2 separate regions of the Homo sapiens genome follow, and region 2 is linked to region 1. The links come from fine-mapping of genetic effects on gene expression. Tissue or cell type: minor salivary gland. Region 1 holds a variant in brackets; the other region holds the start of a gene. All regions are shown on one strand. Distances are between the middles of the regions.

Region 1 (2,689 bases):
CAACAACTACTGAAAGTACATGCATGCAAATTTACAAATGGAAAAGTAGAAATCATAGAGCAATCTGAGTCCATATGAGAAATTAAAGAATGATAAGGGAGGCATCACAAGTGAGTGGGAAAATATTATTGACCATGTGAGACTGGAACAATTGAATAGCTTTTTTTCAAAAGATATCATGATAGTGATAAGTAAATTATTTTTTGCTAAGCATAAAACATTGATAGTATGCTAAGAACTATGCGAGTATTATCTCATATAATTGTTACAGCAAGCCTGTGGCAACAACAAAACTATTATCTCTGATTTTTTGCTTTTCTTTCTCTAATAAATTATTGGAACATGCTGCTAACTAGTCACTGTATCCACTCTTTCCCATTTTTGTTATGGTGATCTGCAGAAAGTTTGAATCAGATCATATCACACCACACACACACACCCACACACACACATACACACATTCACGACTGCCTTCTTATTGCCATTGAACTAAAATTCAAACATTTTCCCATGGCCTATATCCTACATCACCTGGGATCCAAGATTCCCAGAACTCTTGCCTAAGGATTCTGATTCCATAGTTCTAGGATGGATCCTAGGAATCAATGCATTCAGGAAGCATTCTGGAGGATACTTGGGTTTTCAGAGGTTTGGGAAGCATAGCACACCACCTGGCCTATCCCTGTGTCTCTGAGTCCATCTCCTACCACTCCACCTCTCCTTGACTCCCTGCAAACTGCTCTGGCCTTCTCTCTTCCTCAGGACAGTGAGCCTATTCCTGCCTGAATCAGGAATTTTACTCTTGCTGTTCTACCTAGAATAATATACTTCCTGCAAATCTTGTGTCTAGCACATAATGAAGGCTCATTAATTATTTTTAAATTAATAAATAAATGTCAAATAACAGAATGCAGTTGTTTTGGACACTGAGATGATGAAAGATTTCTTATTGCATTTTTTTACTTCAACCTGCAGTAAATTTCCTACTTTTTTCTTCACCTTATTACTTAATTTTTTTTTGGAAAGAGTCTCGCTCTGTTGCCCAGGCCACGGTGCAGTGGTGCGATCTTGGCTGACTGCAACCTTCGCCTCCTGGGTTCAAGCAATTCTCCTGCCTCAGCCTCTCAAGTAGCTGGGACGATAGGCACGGACCACCACGCCCAGCTAAATTTTTTGTATTTTTAGTAGAGGCGGGGTTTCACCATGTTGGCCCAGCTGGTCTCAAACTCCTGACCTCAAGTGATCTACCTGCCTCAGCCTCCCAAAGTGCTGGGATTACAGGCATGAGCCACTGAGCCTGGCCCCTACTTAAATTTTTAACAGACAGCTTGGATAGTTTTCAGGAACAAATTTCAAAAGTAGAAATGTAAAACCAAAAAGAAAATAAACATTGGGAACATACGCCATCACTGAAAGAAGGAGGGCACTGTCTTACACCTAGCCAGGGTGACACTGTTTAAAACTACAGCTTCCAAAGACATTTATGTCCACCTGCCTACATTATTTTTCTTCTTAGTACTTATGAAGCACTTCTAGCTAATA[T/C]CTTTTATGTCTCTTTCTTCCCGAGTTATAATGTATGTTCCACAATGTTGAGATTTTTTTATTTTGTTCCTGCTGTATTTCCAGTGACCACAATGATATAGGGGCTCATAACTATTTATTTGATGAAAGAATGAGTTGATGCCAAAAGAAACACAATTCAAAAGCTTGTAATTAAATAAATAGTACATCTCATTATCAAGAAAATATGATTGAATATGCAATTTTAACACTTAATTACCCATTATATGATCTCGTTTTACATTTTCTCTCCCCACCTAGAGTAGAAATTCCATTAAAAATATACTTGTTTTGTATCTATAACCTTTCAATAGCAAATGCAAAATAGCTAGTCAATGAATATTGATGATTGCTTAATCTATTCCCAGGATTCAAAATCATTTGAGTTGACTTAAAGGATCCATAATAGCCATTTCACAGATACTAATAAAAAATAAAATACAGCTTTCAGTTAGATTTTATTTTTAAGAAAGCCTAGAAAAAGAAATTCAATGATCTACTCCAGAAGTTTGGTTGAACTTTTGTTCTGCTCTTAACTTAATGTTAATGCTTCCTATTAAATTATAAGATCTTCTTATATAATCACCTTCTTATATAATCGCCAGACTAGCATTGCAGAAAGCTTTATGCTCAGATTTCCCCAGCTATTACTGTATCCTTGCAAAATAGTCCTGAAGTAGAAATTCCGTTCTTGAGCTTGGCATCCTGACAGTCATAACTGTCACCATCTGTTGCTTTTCACCATTTCTAGCTATTAAAGCAGCAAGGACGATGCTGGAATGCACTCTGGAAAAGCTAGAGGCTAAGCCTCAGCAATGTCTGTGTGAGGTTACAACCCTGGACCACTCAGTGCATCTGCTTGTTTGGGATCATACACATTCACTATTAGGATGACTCAAGTCTTAAGAGAGCTGGTTTAATTGATTGTCATTAGGCCTTGCTCTCCAGGTGCAGTGAATGAGCAGGGAATAACTTAGTAATATTTTTGTTCTAATTCCAAAAATTATGCATTTTCATACAGTTGTAGAATATTTAGAAAGTTTAGATAAGGAAAAGCGGAAATAAAAACCATCCATAACCAGCCAGGCGTGGTGGCTCAGCGTGTAATTCCAACACTTTGGGAGGCCAA
Region 2 (2,689 bases), 270 kb before region 1:
CCAAAATATCTATTTCAAACTAAAATTTGGTAGTATTCAATACATTCTTTTCAACAAAGCAGCATTTAAATCTGTAATTTTTTTTTAATTTTAGCCTCTGATAAATAATCATTTCTGGGACTATGAATCAATTTTGGTTTTCATTCAATCTGAAATTATTCTTTCAGCCTTGGATTATTCTATATACAAAATATCTCAATAGAAGGTTGTGAAACTATCCATTTTCTAGTAGGAAAGAGAACACAAACAATTTTAGTGATGATTTATATATTAAGCCATTATTTTTGGAATTAATCCTAAATTTGGCCTTTAACGCTATATATTATTGTTGATAATGCATTAAAATATATTGTATTTGTAGTCAGGGAGTAGAATTGTTTCAAAAACATTGTATGCCAGTGAAAATTAGAAATAATATTTTTCTTTTGTAAGGAGTTCATGCTTGCTTATCGTGTAAAACTTAGCAAAGATTCTAAAGAATAATTTTCTCAACAACCTTTTAAAGTAGAGGGTTCTTTTATTTAGGGGGAGAAGAACTCCCTTTGAGAGGCAGGATGTGGAAACTAACATGACCCAGGCTGTTTACACAAAGCAGTCCACACCTCCCTGATGATGTCGGAGCATTTTGCCTTTACCTGAGACAGCTGCCTTCTATTAGCACTAGAAACAAATAGTAAAATCTATGGTCACTGATCCATGACCACCTTCCCATTTTGAATTTTTTTGTCCGGGAGGACCTGGAATCCAGAAACTGAGTTGGTGGAGAACAGCTGTTGCTAGATACAATTTATCAGAGGAAGGAAATTACAGTGTCCACCTTAAAAACAAACCAAGCTATCAGAATGACTACGCATTATAAAATGAAAACAATGTTGCAGTCAGTGCCACTTTATGATTTCTTTCCCTTTGTATCATAAAGAAATAAAGATAAAAAGCAAATGGTCTTATCATGATAGGCAAGGCTGCCTCTCCCTCTGCAATTTCTGTGGTGTATTTACGGCAGCTCTGGAATTCTTTTGAAATAAATTTAGATGTTTTGGAGGGCAGATACATGTAATGGTTATTTTACTATTCTAGGTTTAATGATAACAGGTTGCTATGTCTAAGCTTTGATATTTTGCAGATTTCTAAATGCATTTTATTGCATTTAGAAGGAATTTTGTAGTATTGAGAAAATGCAATGCAAAAATGAGTAGAGATACAATGTCCATTTAACTCAGAACAAAACAACCTTATTTCCCCATAGTTGAAATGGAGGGCGGGGAAGTCAGGCAGTGGTTTCTGAAAGCCAAGAACTTAGTAGCACTGTGCCATTCTCTTGCCTGATCCAGTGCCATTCCCTTCACTTGATATCTGTTTACTTTAGAGGAGGCAGTTTTTGAGAAAGGATCATAAATATCCTGGCCCAGTGCCCCAGGAGCTATGACAAGCAAAGGAACATACTTGCCTGGAGATAGCCTTTGCGATATTTAAATGTGTGAGTTAATAGCCTTTGAGATATTTAAATGTGTGGGTTAATAGCCTTTGCGATATTTAAATGTGTGGGTTAATTTTTTTATCCAGTTTAATAACTTTTTATTCCTCCCTCTACTTCTTTGCTTTCTCTTTCTGCTCTGAAGCCGTGGATACAGAAATCTCTGCAGGCAAGTTGCTCCAGAGCATATTGCAGGACAAGCCTGTAACGAATAGTTAAATTCACGGCATCTGGATTCCTAATCCTTTTCCGAAATGGCAGGTGTGAGTGCCTGTATAAAATATTCTATGTTTACCTTCAACTTCTTGTTCTGGGTAAGTGTTTTCCTTTTAATTATCAATTTTATGCAAGAAAGGGGATCTTGATATAAATATCATAAACAAGAACAGACTGTACACTAGAGAAATAAGAGAAGGGGGAAAATGTATTTTCCATGTACTTGTTTGGATTTGTTTGTTCTTTCTTTGGTTATTTCAGTAATTGAAAATGAGCCAAGGACTCAAAAAAGTGCACTTCAGAATGTGAGGATAAACATTTCATAAATGTTTTCATATTGCTGCAAAAAAAAATCACAGAGGAACACAAATGCCCCTTAATTAAAGGACAATTTTCCTTAGTTGTATATCAAGCAGGCCTCCCTAATTTAAGGACTCTGTGGTAAAAACATGGTCTGATTCCATCCGGAGCCCGGGTCCTGATTCCCGCCCTTCACTTCTGGGTTTGAACAGGTGAATCGCAGGGTGTGGGACAATAAAGATCATTTTCAGAGCCTCAAAGACAAAAAAAATGGGTCATGAAAAACTTGAGGGGGAAATGATAAAATTCCTAAATCATAAGAAAATCAAACTAAGACCGTGGATATATATATGTATTGGCATTTTAAAGTCAGTATTTTGATGTGTCATCACCCTACCTTTTAATTGACAGGATTTGTATTTTAGCAATTTGTTATGTTTCTCTTGAAAGTCCATTGACATAGACATAACCAACAAATTGATAACTGATATCTATCAATAGATAATGGAAAAACAAGGTATGAAAAGAGCAGGCTGGGATGTTGGGACATTGACCTTATCATTTTTAGCATATATGGTACAATTAAAGATTGTTTAAATGTCAATCAGTGGAAATAGCACAAAGTATTTAAATGAAAAAAGTATTTTGTATACTGGATTAAAAGCTACCTTATCCACTCCAAGGATGAAAGAACTCTGG

Evidence for each region. PIP is the estimated chance that this variant, and not a neighbour inherited with it, causes the effect.
Region 2: it holds the start of TSPAN8, and the variant in region 1 is fine-mapped to the expression of TSPAN8 in minor salivary gland (GTEx, PIP above 0.99).

Annotation. Positions count from the first base shown.
Region 1 is chr12:70,885,782-70,888,470 of GRCh38, reverse strand. The region is part of intron 2 of PTPRR (protein tyrosine phosphatase receptor type R); the gene reads left to right. Among named protein-coding and RNA genes, the nearest start is that of PTPRR, 34 kb to the left of the region's middle. The variant T/C (reference allele first, on the strand shown) is at 1,543.
Region 2 is chr12:71,156,718-71,159,406 of GRCh38, reverse strand. It overlaps TSPAN8 (tetraspanin 8), which reads left to right and starts at 1,408. Exons shown (of 9, transcript NM_004616.3): 1 at 1,408-1,477; 2 at 1,620-1,788. The coding sequence starts at 1,729.